Regions from separate parts of the Homo sapiens genome. Here region 1 is linked to region 2. The links come from fine-mapping of genetic effects on gene expression. Tissue or cell type: nasal epithelium. Region 2 holds a variant in brackets; the other region holds the start of a gene. All regions are shown on one strand. Distances are between the middles of the regions.

The links. PIP is the estimated chance that this variant, and not a neighbour inherited with it, causes the effect.
Region 1: it holds the start of ANKRD6, and the variant in region 2 is fine-mapped to the expression of ANKRD6 in nasal epithelium (TOPMed, PIP above 0.99).

Annotation. Positions count from the first base shown.
Region 1 is chr6:89,429,691-89,437,825 of GRCh38, forward strand. It overlaps ANKRD6 (ankyrin repeat domain 6), which reads left to right and starts at 3,462. Exons shown (of 16, transcript NM_001242809.2): 1 at 3,462-3,685. It overlaps LOC124901360 (a long non-coding RNA gene), which reads right to left. Exons shown (of 2, transcript XR_007059675.1): 1 at 3,727-8,135; 2 at 518-2,897. RefSeq lists a silencer at 3,254-3,733.
Region 2 is chr6:89,597,347-89,605,481 of GRCh38, forward strand. ANKRD6 (ankyrin repeat domain 6) reads left to right here. Exons shown (of 16, transcript NM_001242809.2): 4 at 5,683-5,781. LOC124901359 (a long non-coding RNA gene) reads right to left here. Exons shown (of 2, transcript XR_007059673.1): 2 at 8,058-8,135. Among named protein-coding and RNA genes, the nearest start is that of MDN1-AS1, 37 kb to the right of the region's middle. The variant C/T (reference allele first, on the strand shown) is at 4,148.

The DNA of each region.
Region 1 (8,135 bases), 170 kb before region 2:
CTCGATCTCCTGACTTCGTGATCCACCCGCCTCGACCTCCCAAAGTGCTGGGATTTACAGGCGTGAGCCACCATGCCCGGCCAGATGACTTTCATATACAGGTGTTAGAAATGAAAATTGGTATGACCACTTTAGAAAACAATTTTAGAAAACAACCAGTTTAGACAGTTTGACATTACCTAGTAAATTTGAACGTGCACTTACCTTAAGACCTGATGATTCCACTTCTAGGTATATATCCTAAAAAACATTCTTACACACATGTATCGGAGAAATATTTAAGAATATTCACAGCAACACTGTTTGCAATAGCAAAAACTGGAGCCAATCCAACATCCAAAAGTAGAATGGGTAATTAAATTGTGTTATGTTTTTACAACAAAATACCTATATAACAGAGAAATCAGATAGGTGAATCTCAGAAACATAATGCTGGGCAAAAGCTGCAAGTTGCATGGGAATAATGCAGAATGATTCTATTTTAAAAAAGCTCAAAAACACGCAAAAACAAACCATGTAGTGTTTAGGGACACATATATTTGTGATAACATAATTATTAACACAAAACTTAGGATGGTGGTTTCCTCTGAAAGAGAAGGATATGATTATAGAGCGGCAGATGGAAGGGTTCTTCCTTGAGTGGAAGCTTTAGCAAAGGCAGTTTCAGTGGAGTGGCAGGGATGGAAGCCAGAATGGTGTGTTGAAGGCTGCGTTGAAGCTAACAACATGAAAGACAGCTAATGCAGTCAGCTCATTAAAGACATGTTGTTGAAAATAGGAGCAGATTATATTATCACAAAGCAGTGAAAATGATCATTTGCAGAGCAAACTTCTTTCTCACAAGGCAGAAGGAGGGTGAGCTAGGGTGAATATAAGAGGCTGGCTGTGATTGAGCTGAACGTAGGGGCAAGAACAGAGCTGCAGCCTGGGAGCCCTTCTCATAAAGAGGGAGATTTAGGAGTCTTCTTCGTTGGTCGCCCAAAGACTGTCTGCCCACTTGGAGATAAGCAAGCAAGATCTCCAAGCAGCTCAGCCACTGCCTGCTTTGGCTCTCATGAGACCTCCTGCCAGGAATCCCCATTAATCAAAGTCTGGGAACAAAAGCAGACCAGTCAGTTCCCAGGAGCGCTCACATGTCTTGCAGGCTGGCTTGGGCTTTCTGTTTCTTTCGGGGTCATTGCTCTGACTACCCACAAATATAACTTAAAATCTCATCTCAATGTGACTTTCTGGTGATGTTTTAAAAGCCTATCAGGGAAACTGAGCATTTGCATCTTTGGAAGTTTATTCGAGGGACTAGCTAGGAAAACTCAATGTGGAAAAGTACAAGAGAGAAATGATCACATTGAAAGGTCATGTGGCTGGGCGCGGTGGCTCACACCTGTAATCCCAGCACTTTGGGAGGCTGAGGCAGGTGGATCACAAGGTCAGCAGTTCGAGATCAGCCTGACCAACATGGTGAAACTCCGTCTCTACTAAAAATACAAAAAAATTAGCTGGGCGTGGTGGCAGGCGCCTGTAATCCCAGCTACTTGGGAGGCTGAGGCAGGAGAATTGCTTGAAACCGGAAGGTGGAGGTTGCAGTGAGCCGAGATTGCACCACTGCACTCTAGCCTGGGCAATAAAAGCAAAACTCCATCTCAAAAAATAAAAAGAAAGGTCATGTGTACAAACTTTGACTTTGAGGGTTATCTAGGAACTCATTAGTAACCTGCCTGGAGAGAAACCTGGAGCTACAAGCCAGCAGAGAAAGGAAATGTGTTCTTCTATCAGCTCCAGGTGTAGAGCAACAGGAATGGGGCACAAATCTGAAGAAGGGCTGGGCGCGGTGGCTCACACCTGTAATCCCAACACTTTGGGAGGCTGAGGCCGGAGGATTACTTGAGCCCAGGAGTTCAAGACCAGCCTTGACCTCCTCTGTGTTAAACATAAAAAAATTAGCTGGGCATGGTGGTGCACACTTGTAATCCCAACTATTCAGGAGGCAGAGGCAGGAGGATTGCTTGAGCCCAGGAGTTCAAGACTGCAGTGGGCTACTGCACTTCAGCCTGGGTGACACAGCAAGGCCCCATCTTAAGGGGGAAAAAAAAGTCTGGAAAAGGCCAAAGGATACTCAGAAGAGAGATTTCACATCCTGTTAGGTAAAACTGCAGCTGTGACTATGGGGTTGGGAAAATTTCAGAAGCAGTAGGAGAAAATCAAGAACTTCCCCTTCCTAGTGTGGAAACAGGCTCTTGGGATCTCTCCTGCCTAATGATCCCTGAAGGAGAGAGGGAAACAAACATCTTAAGGAAAAGGAAGAAATCATCATGTTTCTTTTCTCCTGGAAACCAGGCCTGTTTCAGAGGGAATAAGAAAAGTCGGCTGGGTGCAGTGGCTCATGCCTGTAATCCCAGCACTTTGGGAGGCCGAGGCTGGAGGATCACGAGGTCAGGAGTTCGAGACCAGCCTGACCAATATGGTGAAACCCCATCTCTACTAAAAATACAAAAATTAGCCAGGGATGGTGGCGGGCACCTGTAATCCCAGCTACTCAGGAGGCTGAGGCAGGAGAATCACTTGAACCTGGGAGGCGGAGGTTGCAGTGAGCCTAGATGGTGCCATTGCACTCCAGCCTGGGTGACAGAGTGAGACTTCGTCTCAAAAAAAAATTTTAAGCAAGAAAGAAAAAAAAATCAGATTCGTGATAAGCTTGTCCCAAAACCTCAGGTAAGATTGATAGTCCATTTTAGGGTGCTGCTTGCCTCCTCTTCCATCTCTCCGCCTTTGGAGAGCAGATACCTGTCCATGCTTCTTCAAAGGGTGGAATGAGATCCCATCCATCTTACATGTATTCAACAGTAGCTTATTGAATGCTTCCTGTGTTCAGGGAGCTCTTCTAGGTATTGAAGAAGTGGCTGTGAATGAAAATAGACAAAACCAGACTGAGATAATGGTATGTAAAGTGTGATATGAATATGGGGGTCAGGCTCGCTCAATGCTTTTGCCATTTCCATATGGGATGATTCCAACAAGATACTTATAGTCAAGCTGTTAGAAATAAAGGCTTCCTTTCCCCTCTCCAGCTACCCCAATAAATCTGGGTCATTCATCATTGTTGTTCAGTTTGTACTGAGCAGCCCCAGTTAAGTGAGCTATGGTTATATTGAAATATCCACTTGGCCACGAATTGAGTGAAGGTGGGAGGTTCCTCCTGCTAATTCTCCTCCCCTCCCAATACACTTCCTGGCAACCCCCACGCGGAAAACCTCACCCTACTATAGGCCCCCTTCCTCCCACTCTTCAGAAGGCGGTGGCCCCACCCAGGAGAGGGCTGCAGATCGGGGCCAGCCCCAGGGCCTCCGCGGTGCCACCTCTCTCTCGCGAGGGTCCCTGCCGTGCCCCGGCTCGCCGCTGGGAGGCGCTGCGGCACCGGCGTAGGAGCCGCCGGCAGGGGTGGGGCGGGGCCGGCGGGACGGGGCAGAGGGCCCTGCGGCGGCGGACGCGGCGGGCTCGGCCACAGGTAACCCGCAGGAGCCGAGAGCGCTGCCTGGCGCGCGGGCGGCTGGAGGCACGGCGCTGGGCGGCGCCGAGGCCCTGGGGCCGCCGGAGCCAGCGGGAGCCAGTCCCCGTCTTCGCCCCTCGCCCCCCACCGTGTCGCCGGCCTTGGTCCCTGCGGCGCGGACGTCCGGCGCGGGAGAGAAAGGTACCAGGCGACCTCGCCGGCTCCCTGGGACCCCCGCTTACACCGGGGTGGGCGCCTCAGGTCGGGGAGGACGCTGTCGGGGGAAGGGGGCGCTGCTCCCTCGGCACCCCAGGATCGCCGACTGCCCGCGGAGGAGACCCGGACACCGCGCCTCGCCCCCTGGCCTGCGGCCTCCGAAAACGCCCGGCGCGAGGGGGTCCCCCCGGGGCGCCTCCCTCTTCGCCTGGCATCAGTTGCCTCCCTGGAATATGGAACTTCGGGCGAGGGAGGTGGAGAACTTTCTTCTGGGGCTCGTCCCTCGTTCTCCTGCTCGCTTGCAGTTTGAAGGAAGGGCGGTGGGGGCGGGGGTCCGAGTACCCCGCGGTCTGCGGCGCGTAGGAGGGTAGGTCCCTGGCCTGCGGCCGCCTCCGAATGACCCCGTCCCTCCCCGCCCTGGACGACAGCACTAGGGTGCAGTCGCAGGAGAGGGGCCGATACCCCTCAGGAGCCCCATCGGCGAAGCCTCAGCAAGTGGCATCTCCCGGGGTCCAGAGAGTCGGCGTGCTGTCTGGTTTGGGTCCAGACATCAGCTCACCCAAGCTTATCTTGGGCTTTTAAGTGTGTTGCTTCCGGTAGATCTCGGGGACTGGAGGGGAAGTGCAGCATTATTTGTGACCCAAGAGGGACTTGAATGTCTCAAAGCTGGTCAAGAATGTTTCCCCCGCGAGGTAGCATGAGATGGGTCACGTGGTAGTAAAGAGCCACTTCGGGCCCGTGAGATGGAGTTCTGACTCCACCACTTGTTAGGTGTGTGACTTTGGAAAACCCACTTCTTTAAACCTTAGTTTTTAGAACTCTAAACTGCAGGTATTGTACATAACCTCGTAGTATTGTGTTCATGCAGTGAAGTGATGGGAATGAAATGCTTGGCATTGTACTCTTGTGTGTTAGACACCTTTTGCGAACCTGTTGGATGTTGAATTCATTCATGCTTAGGTTCTGTTAGGCCAGTGTAAGTGGAAAGAACTTGGGCAATGAAGACAAACACACCTGGGTCCAAGGTGGTCCCATCCATGGTATACTGATTGGGGGTTTCTCATCCCCAAAACACCAATAGCAGCCTTGGCGGGGTTTTTGTTGTTGTTGTTTTGAGACAGAGTTTCGCTCTGTTGCCCAGGCTGTAAGCTTTGACCTCCTTAGCTCAACCGATCTTCCCACCTCAGCCTGGGACCACCACACCTGGCTAATTTTGAATTTTTTTATTTTACTAGAGACAGAGTCTCACTGTGTTGCCTAAGCTGGTCTCGAACTCCTCCTGTCTCAGCCTCCCAAAGTGTTGGGATTACAGGTGTGAGCCACTGTACTGGTCTGCAGCCTTGTTCTTGAGTGTAGTAGGTGTGTCTATACCGATACATGTTACACTTTGTCATCTTTAGTATTTGTTTAGCATATGGTAACAAAAAATTTTTTAAAAATTAGGGATACAAATTAAAATTGGGGAGTATTTTCTGCCCTCTAGGTCATACTGGACATGGGGGAAGGGTAGAAGAGGGATGAAGAGGAATTAAAGAGACCAGAAAACAACTAGTCGCAGTGTTGGGAGGTATAAACCAATGGTAATTTTTAAAAATGTGAATTTATTAACTCCTTGTTTTTTCATGGTGGCACCAAAAATTAATCTTAGTCTCCCACTTAAACTCATCAGCCTCCCCAAAGCCTTTCCAGATAAGCATATGCTCCATGTAAAAGCAGACTGCCTGCGATCCAACTCAGCTTAGAGACAAGGCACACTTCCAACTCCCAAGGCCTCCTTCTTGTATAGAGATGCTGGTGCTGCCACTGTGAAATACATCATACACTCAGACAGTATAAACCTTAGAGTGCAATGTAAAGAATAACAATAGATCACACCCAAGTACGAGTCACCCGGCTGAAGAACTAGAACATCGCCAGGCCCCTGGAGCCCCTGAGTACCCCTCTCCATTGCCTTCCACTCACTTCTCGCCTCCCACCCAAGGAACCACTATTCTGGATGTTGTGTTAACTTTTTCCCTTGCTTATATGAAAAACCCTGAGGAAAGGAAGTTTCCCAACAAGCATTTCCACAATAACCTGGAGCATTCTTTATTTTTCTTTTTTTCTCAAGGAGCATTGTTATTGAACTTAAAAGCAGGCTATTGAGGGTAAGATACAAACCACAAAAAAGCCGAAAGTCTCAAAGTCGGGGGATCTTTTAGTCTCTGTCTTCTTCCAAGTTTCTCCTGTCTCCCTGGCACGGATCCCGAAGGTGTGTTCTGTCTGTGTAGGGGAGACCCAGTCTCTTCCAACATAGATTGATGGCTGTGATTTTAAAAGCTTTGCTTGAGTCCCTAAGAAGTGGGAAAACAGTAATTTGGGTGCGTGCGTTTTAGAAGTTTTTTTAAAAATGCAAATTATCCAGAAGGCATTGTGTGGGATTTGAAGGATTAAGCTAAGAGTGACCTTTAAAAATGGTTTTAACAACCCAAATTCCTCTTCCTGGTTGATATGTTTGTGTTATTGTCTTTGTTTTATTTCTTCAAGGTCACATGGCTTTCCTTGGTGAATCTTACACTGTTTTGTTACTTCTTGGTTAAGGCAAAGATTCTGAAACTTGGTTTCATGGAGCCCTTAGTGTCTGAGTTAATTTTTTCACAATTCCCTTAGGCTTCAGTAGTTAGTAATTTTTTCACAATTCCCTTAGGTTTCAGTAGTTAGTAGTTAGGTTCAAACAACTGAGTATTTACTTAGAAGTTGTTTGAAAAAATAATATACATAAACTGAGAGAAAAAATATTTTACATCCTTTAAAGTCATAATTACTAACCGTATGTGTGTGCCTATACTACTTTTCAAACCTTGGGATCGTGTTGGACACTGCCACTCTCATTTCCTGTTTCACATTAATATTTCCGCAGCATTTGGCTTTTATCACAGCAGCCACAGAAAACCCAGCTTTGCAAAGATGTATTGTCTTGGATAGGAATGTAACATGATCTACTGTTGAAACTGCAAACTACCTCCAGTTAATAGGTTCAGCAGTGTCCAGACATGTTTGGTATACTAGTTTCCATTGAAATTTTCAGATTTTCTACATTGCCCATTTTAATTTGCTATAGTTGCAAAACACCCAGTCAGGGGGTCCAAAATAGTAAACTTTGAAAACATTATGCTAGGTGAAATAAGTTAGTCACAGAAGGGACAATATTGTATGATTCTGTTTATATTAGGTACCTAGAGTAGTCATACACATGGAGACAGAAAGTAGAATGGTAGTTACCAGGGGTAGGGGGAGGACAGAATAGGGAATTCATGTACTATTTTTGCAACTTCTATGTAAGACTAATATTATTTCAAAATAAAGTTTTTAAACGTTTTTTAAAAACAAATTCTGTTGATGGTGCCCCACTGCTGGACTGTACCAAGGCACTGAGGTTAGGGACAGCAGCAGAGAAAAGCTTAGGGGTGACATTATCTCTATTTCCCAGCTCTTCCTCATCCCGTCAAGGGGGAAGAGATGGAAGAAATAGCTATGTTCTCTCTCTTTTATAGGGAAGTGTCTGCATTATTTACTGGTGGGTTCCTTTATAAACCTGAGGATCAGCTATTAAATTTGTCACTAAAATAAGAATTTTTAACCTGGGGTTCAGTGGTGGGCTACAAATACTCTAAGATCTCCCAAAATTATGTATAAGTATTTAAGTGAATGCTCTTATGTATGTTTGAGGGGGAAGAAGTTCCATAGCTTTCATCAGATTCTCAAATGGTTTCCTAAGTCAAAAAAGGTTAGTAAGCGCTATAAGGAAATATTTACAGATTCCTACCTACCCCCACCCCATAAAAGGCCCCTTTATTTGGATGTCTTATCCCATTTCAGTTCTCTGACATATCTTTCCCCCACCAGTTACAAGAGGCTTTCTTTCTGCTCAGACCCCAGATAAGCCCGACCAGTTCTTTTTCCTCAGAGCCCCCAGCTATTCATCTGGATCCTGAAAACTCCAGGACCAATTCCTCAAGAGCCAAAGGAAGTCCCAGAATGAACATCTTGGACTTCTGAATAGGGCAGATGTGGAACTGAAGTCTCACAACTGCCACATCTCTCTGTGCCCTCCTTAGGTCTAGAAAAATATGAAGTAAATAATAATATATTAGGTACACAGCTATGGAAAAACTCATGAAGATGGTACTGAATGACTGAAGTCCAGTACATTCTGCTTTGGGGGAGGCAAATTTAATTTTAAGAGTGTCTTCTGGTTTACACTTTATGTTCCAAATGTATTCTAAATATAGCATACAATACGTCCTACCTTGTTTCATATCCAGTGATACAGATGAGCTATAGAATTTACACAGTGTTAGAAAAGATGTTAAATATCAGAATTTACTTAATAAGTAGGTCTCTACTCATTCAGACTGGTTTCATTTTATTTTATTTTATTTTTGAGGCAAGGTCT
Region 2 (8,135 bases):
GAGAGAGAAAAGATTTTGGCCACAGAAAAGGTGGGGAATTGAGTTATTACTGGTGCAAACATGTTGGGATGCATTTGGTCTTCTCTTCGCATAATTAAAGGCTTTGCTTGCCACAGTGGCAAGGCCAAAATGCCAGGCATGCTAACCCATTCCAACTTGACACCCCTGCCTCACATCCTGGGCTCTAAGTATCACTGTGTTCTCATGCAGCAAAAGCCTTGCTAATTTCCTAGAACTGCTGCTGTTTATACCAGGCAAGGTAGGAAGTGAAACAGGCAAGAATTTTCTTAGGTAGCCAAAGTGAGACGTGTCAGCAGAAGAAAAGCCAGCTCTACTTTTAGACAGAGAGAGTCCCTTTTATTTATTGAAGGTATTTTCTTGCATCTTTTCCTTGTCCTAGAGAGACAATGCATATATTGCTTCTCCCAGATAAATTAAAATAAAAATACAACAACAAGAAATAATTGGGAGTGGAGAAGGTAGAATTGACCTTCACTAGTTCTGAAGAAATGCATTTGCCAGCAATATGATCCATGCCTGTTCTCTGTGTATTTACCATGCTGTTGATGACCAGCCTTGAAATACATGCAAGAAATCAAGGAAGAAAACTCTTGATGTGTGTCCTTTAAAGAATCTAGGAGATCAGTTATTTGAAAAAATCTCAGAAGTTACCTGTCTTGGATGGTGGGTAGAAACAGAGAATGTTAATGATATGAAGAATTTACTCCTAACTTCATATTCTACAGATACTGATCTTTATGGCATGGTAAGAACTGAGAATTAGTTGAAGAATGACCTCCAGTGGCCTGGAGTGGGATTATTATGAATTTCAACCTGTGGAAACCAGTTCTTTAGATTATGCAACTCCAGGAGCAAATTCTTTCTTGCTTCCTGCCAATCGTGTCAACTCTCATTGGAGCGCTAATGCCATCTCTGATTGGTCAATGAGCAATCACATAGCTCCCGCCTCAGAAATAGTCCAGGATGCTGTGGCCACAGTGAAAGCCATGAAAGAAGACAAAAATAAGAAAAACCACAGAGGGAAGGTTAGGAAGGACCCTAGAAGATCAGAGAGAGAAAAAGAGGTCAGCAACTTGCTTTACACACCTAACCTGTCTTGAGCTTCCTTGCAGTATGTCTGCCTGTGCCACATGGGGGTGTTTCCTCTTGAAGAGGCGCACACTGCACCCTTGCATGACTGAAATCTGCCAACACTACACTCACTCTTTTTCACCATGTAGGAAAGAAAAATAACAGTATTTCAAAACAAAGATTTAGACCTTATAGGCACCAAAGCTCTTAAAATCCCAAAGTGAGAAACACTGTCTCAGAAAAACTGAGAGCTGGCAGTTCACGTACTTCGCAAATGGGTCAACATGTTCCAAATCAAAGTGCCAAACTGCAAGGTTGCAGGCCCTTCAGGTTTCCAGCTACAGCATCTTTCCTTCTGCTTCTTGTAGTTAATCATTCAACAAATGCTTTTGGGGCAGCTCTAGTGGCTATGCTTTACTTTATGAAAGAGGCAGTCCCAACCCCACAGATGCATCTGACCTTTTCTGAGGCTCGTCCTAAGGTTAATGACTTCACAGGTTGGAAGCAGCTTGGGGTGAGTGCAAAGAGCCTTGACAATTTGATTTCTGGTCCAAGCATGCTGTCCTAGGCTTATCAATAAAATGAGAGAATTAGACATCAATAAAATGAGAGAATTAGACTTGGCACACAGTAGGGAGTCAATAAATATTCAGTCCGGGCCTGGTGGCTCACACCTGTAATCCCAGTGCTTTGCGTGGCTATGGAGGAAGGATTGCTTGAACCCAGGAGTTGGAGACCAGCCTGGGCAACATGGCAAAACTCCATCTCTACAAAAAATAAAAAAATTAGCTGGACATGGTGGCAAATGCCTGTGGTCCCAGCTACTCAGGAGGCTGAAGTGGGAAGATTGATTGAGCCTGGGAGGTGGAGGTTGCAGTGAGCTGAGATCATGCCACTGCACTCTAGCATAGGTGACAGAGTGAGACCCTGTCTCAAAATGAGTGGATGTTCACCAAATAGATAATTCAGTAAACACTGTTGAGAGTGCTCTACCTTTTCCCAGCATTTAAGAATTTCATGATTGACTTAGGTAGGTATCATATGCAAGTAAGAATTATGTCAAAGTAGCCACTTGTATGTATTGAGGCCACATCTTGTTTCTTCGTGTCATTTCAAGGAGGAAATGTTTCAATGGTAAATTTTAATCTTATAGGAGGAAAGAGTCCATTTGTAGATAACTGACCCTGTTTCAACTGAGGGCCTCAAGGTACTAAATTGTTTGTGTTGTATTCTAGGGAAGAATAGATCCAAGATGATAACCTGAGGCAGCTATTGTTTACATGTTTCATGTCTCTCACCTCAGAGCCTTTAATTCTCATCTTGGTTACTTGAGAAGGGTGGGTTTTTCAAAGCCTGAGAAAGCGTATTGCCCAGTCCTCCAGAACCATTCCAGCTAGTGTCAGCACAGCTAGCAGTACAGCCAAGGACAGCCACTTTTGGTAGGGAGAGTCCGAGCCTGGCCTGACAGCAGTGTTTATCTGACCCGGGCTCTCGGTGAGGTCTCTGTCTGAGAGGACGGCTGGAGGGGGAGCTGTGGCCTGGAAACAGGCAGGACAGCCAAAAGGTCCCCCAGAGGAAGGGGTGTGCAGGACCTTTGCCAGCAGCTTAGGACACTATGTGTTCTCGCCGCAACCTCACACAAGTCATTAGATTTCCTTGAGTCTTGCTAGTCTGGAAATGTCCTCCCAAGGTCTGAACTGAAAGTTAGATTGAGCTGCTTGCATTGAGCTAGAGTTTCACAAAGGAAAATTTTCTCAAAGGAAGCAAATACAGTAGATTGATGATGAAAGCAAGTAATAAATAACTTGGTGCCATTCCGGCTCCAAAGATACCTCAACTCATAATTTAGAGGGCAGCTTGTGAAACATGACAAAAAATATTTGACCTAAACCAAGGCTTAGGTTAGTCTGTGCCGTACCATCCAGTGAAGGCCCTTCGTGAAATAATTTGTACAGCAAGAGTGGCTAACACGACCCATATGCTCAGGGCTTGTTGCTCATACTTCATGAACAATACAGAGTGATAAGCTTTGTCCTGGAAAAAGTTGTTTTTATTGGTCCAAAGAGCACTAGAGTGTAAGTAGTTTGTGGTTATATTAAAAAGCCTGTAAGAAGTGGAAATCTAACCAAGTCAGCACTACCCTGAAAGCGTGAGCTGCAGTCGCGTGGTTCTTGCTAAGAAGGGCACTGTCTTTCTTAGCAGGTCAGTAATCATCATTGCACTGGAGGCCTATTTTGGGAAATTCCGTCACCATTCTGATAGAGAAATGGGAAGTCTTGGAAATCTTACGGAAATTTTAAAAAGTTGAGACGTGGGGCCAGGCACGGTGGCTCGCGCCTGTAATCCCAACACTTTGGGAGGTGGAGGTGGGCAGATCACTTGAGGCCAGGAGTTCAAGTCCAGCCTGGCCAACATGGTGACACCTTATGTCTACTAAAAATATAAAAAAAAAATTAGGCATGGTGGCAAGTGTCTGTAATCCCAGCTACTCTGGAGGCTGAGGCAGAAGAATCGCTTGAACCTGGGAGGCAGAGGTTGCAGTGAACCAAGATGGCACCACTGCACTCCAGCCTGGGCGACAGGGCGAGACTCTGTCTCTAAACAAAAACAAAAAGTTGAGACTTGGGCAGTATCTCATATGATTACTAGTTTCCTTGTCTAGAACTGCTTTCTAAGAGGTCTGAGGTAGACAGCGCAAATGGCACAGCCTACCTCCTGCAGCCACTGACCCAGCGGCCACATTCTTTTTTTAACCACTGCAAGGGTTCTCTTTGAATAAGGGGTCTGGGAAGGTGGATGAGAAGAAAATCAGCCTGAACCTAACTGATAACAGGAATAATAGTTTAGGATGCTGAAGGGGGGAGGTCGGTGGTGGCAGTGCTGAGGACAGTGATCTGTCCTCAGTGTCCTGACCCCCCCTCACTGCAGAAATTCCTTACCTTCCACAAATGAACAGTGGGAAGAGAGTCTGTGACAGGGACAGTCCTGTTACTGGGGTATTGTTTCTGCTCAGACTTCTAATAAGTAGCGGTTTTTCCTGATGCTAAAAGTTATC[C/T]GTGTTAAATATAAAAAGCTGGAAAATATTAAAAAGTATAAAAAGTTAAAAGAGAAAAATCCTTTCATGGATTTTTAAAGGGAGACTTTTTAATTTTAAGAAAGCAATTTTGAGTTTTAACTAGGATTTTTTATTGTAATAAAATATACATAGCATTAAATTTACTGTCTGAACATATTTACGTATACGGTTCAGTGGCATTAAGTACACTCACATTGTTGTGCAACCATCACCACCATCTATCTTTAGAACTTTGTTTCAGATTACATGTTTTTAATGTGCATTGTTTGTTACAGATCTGGGGAGTTTAGTAAGTAGAATCAGTATTTCGTTAAGGTTGTTTATAGGTAGCAGTGCATCCTTCTTTTAAAAAATCTGTTTTATCTTATGATGGCCTCTGTCCTCTTTTGGGCCAAGCACCAGGGACGCCCCAGAATGTTTTCTTTGCCCCTCTGGTGCTCTGCCAGGAAACTTCACAAAACTCTGACCAGCCACATCATAGAATCCAAGAAGGCAATGGAGGGACCCTGGGATCATCCAGGGTGACACACCTGAGGTCCAGCAGGGTGACAGGCTTCTAGCAAGCCATGCACAGCCCAGGCCTCCTGACCCCTTGTCTCGTGCTCATTGCTTTCCACCAGAACATTTCCACACTGCCCACCCATCCTCCCTTTCAAGGCTGGACCACAGGCTCAGCTTGATTTACCTCAACTTAGCTTCCTGAGGACCTGTCAGAGATAAAGGGTGCTCTTAGAGACTTCAGAACTCTCCTGTTACAGTCTTGACCTGCTTACCTCTGGGAGTGTTTCATCCTTCACTCAACTGCAATTAGGAAGAGTCAAGTTCCCTTTGGCGCCTAAAGGAGAACAACGGCCGGCAATCCCAGGAATCCGATCATAGAGAAGAGGGCTCAGAGTGCAGCATAAATCAGTGAGGATGTTGTCATGAACTCTCTGAAGAGGCTTCTTAGAAATATGCAGTGATAGCTGCAGTCCCTGGAGTCCTCAGATGAAATAGGGCAAACCCCTGCATTGCCGTTGACTAGTACAGGTCAATGAACAAATGACCCGCCTGTCATCAAATCATGAGTGCTGCTAACTGGCAGAGCTGGACAGTGGTCCCCCTGCAAGCTGGAAACTCGGCAGGCAGTAGAGATTCCAGGCATTGCTGCTTTAATTGCATAGCACACACCTGCCCTCACACCCACTCTTCACACCTGTGATAGTCATAGCCCCTGGATGGCAGGAGAGAGCCTGACCCTCATTTTGAGGTTGGCTCTGTGGCCGAGGGCTATTCTTGCTGTCGGCTTAAGGTCCCCCTCTTAGTTTATGAACAAAATTTCTCTGCCAGCGTGCGTTGTCTACTAACAAGACCACAAAGCCCGCCTTGCCTGTGGTAACCAAGCCCTTCTGCGAATAACCGCTCTGCTCTGTGTGGGGACGGGAGGGGTCCTTGTGTCCAAGTGTCAAGTGAGTAGTGCAAGCAGGGGGTGCAGGGGAGCTGACTGCTGTTCCTGCCTTTGTGTCACTTTGCAGGGGGACCAGACCGCCTTGCACCGGGCCACAGTGGTGGGGAACACGGAGATCATCGCGGCGCTCATCCACGAAGGGTGTGCCCTGGACAGACAAGACAAGGTGAGTGGACACTGAGCTTCCTTACTCCCCAAGGCAAGGGAAGCCAGTGGCTCAGGGGAGCTGGAGGAGCCCGCTCTGGAAACTTTTGAGTCCTCGAGGTATTATAATTCCTGTCTTACCACTTATGATTTAACATGATTAAATCAGCCTAAAATTCCTTTGAAACACTATCTGGTATCCCAGCCAATTGTAATTTTTTTTTTTTTTTTTTTTTTTGGAGAGAGGGTCTCACTCTGTTGCCCAGGCTGGAGTGCAATGGCATGATCATAGCTCACTGCACCTGGAACTCCTGGGCTCAAGTGCTCCTCCCACCTCATCCTCCCAAAATGCTGGCATGAGCCATTGTGCCCAGCTGCCAATTGTATTTTTTAAAAATCTTTTTCCTTGTTCTATGGCACCAGTGACAACCACATAAATCTTAAATGGTAAAGAAAAAAATCTAGAAATAAGGACCTATGTAGGCCTGGGTCGGGGGGGTAAGGGATGTGCCCCAGACTTTCTCTTTACTTTCTTAGATAAGTGAGCAAGTTAATTTCTTTAAACTATATTGCAGGGAAAAAAAAGTAAGCTCAACTGGGCCAAACACAGTGGCTCACGCCTGTAATCCTAGCACTTTGGGAGGCTAAGGTGGGAGGATTGCTCGAGGCCAGGACTTCAAGACCAGCCTAGTCAACATAACAAACCACTGTCTCCACAAAAAATTTGAAAATTAAGAAAATATATATTAGCAAGGCGTGGTAGTGTACACACCTGTAGTCCCAGCTACTCAGGAAGCTGAGATGGGAGGATTGCTAAGCCCAGGAGGTTGAAGCTGCAGTGAGCCATGACTGCATCACTGCATTCCAGCCTGGACGACAGAGTGAGACCTTGTCTCTTAACAAATAAATAAATAAGATTGATAGATAGATAGCAAAATTGGCCAGGCGCAGTGGTTCATGCCTATAATCCCAACACTTTGGGAGGCCAAGGCGGGCAGATCACCTGAGGTCAGGAGTTCGAGACCAGCCTGGCTAACATGGTGAAACCCCGTTTCTACTAAAAATACAAAAAATTAGCAGGGCATGGTGGCGCATGCCTGTAAACTCAGCTACTTGGGAGGCTGAGGCAGGAGAATCGCTTGAACCCGGGAGGTGGAGGTTGCAGTGAGCTGAGATCGTGCCATTGCATTCCAGCTTGGGCAACAAGAGCGAAACTCTTGTCTCAAAAAAAAAAGAAAAAGAAAAATTGATTATTTAAGGAATCCTAATGACTTCTTACATATTAACCTAATGTTTTTAAATTTTCAAACAATCTTAAAACACAAAACTTCACAATTAAGTGCAATTCAGCCTCTGCTTACTTTTTTTTTTTTTCTTTAAAGAGGCTATGCTGGGAAGAACTCTGCTTTACTTTTTAAAAATAACTTTTCATTAAAGTATAATATACATACAGAAAAGTGGACAAATAAGTGTGCAGCTTGTTGAATTTCACTAGCAGAACACACCTGTGTGAGCACCCAGCTCAAGAAGCAGCTCATTGCCAGCACCCAGAAGCCCCATACCCTGTGCCCCCTGCCCCTTGCATCCCCGCTTTCCTTTGGCTTCCTCCTTCTGCAGTCAGTCCCACTGCCCGGGCCACACACCGCCAATACAGTTCCCAGCAACCACCCCATCCCCTGGCCTTTGAGACCCTAGACTTCCCCTTGTGGAGGTCAGCTGTGTTAGGCCTTTATTTTTAGCTGTTTCTAGGGGCATGGATGTGGTTGAGTTAAAGCTGAAGCCAGAGCCTGGATGTAATTGGAGAATGCACCTGCACTGACCTCTGCTGATTGCCCTGCACCCTTCCTTCTCCGGGCTCTTCCCTCCCTGGAACTCCTGCCTTCCCGCCCCCACCCCACTCAATTCATTGCACTTAATGATATTTATTTGTTTAAAATAGTAAGCTAAGCAAATACGAGCTATGTTCATTAAATGACTTCTATTTAAAAGCAACACATTAGGCCGGGCACGGTGGCTCACGCCTGTAATCCCAGCACTGTGGGAAGCCAAGTGGATCACTTGAGGTCAGGAGTTCAAGACCAGCCTAGCCAACATAGTGAAACCCTGTCTCTACTAAAAATACAAAAATTAGCAAGGCATAGTGGTGCATGTCTGTAATTCCAGCTACTTGGGAGGCTAAGGCAGGAGAATCGCTTGAACTCTGGAGGCAGAGGTGGCAGTGAGCTGAGATCACACCACTGCACTCCACTCTAGGTGACAGAACAAGACTGTCTCAAAAAATAAAGGCCACACATTGAGGATACTTGTTTGTTTTATTTCCAAATCACTGTTTCCTCAGTCCCTGTTCATTATTTGTTTGGGGCCCTGAGGCTTTTG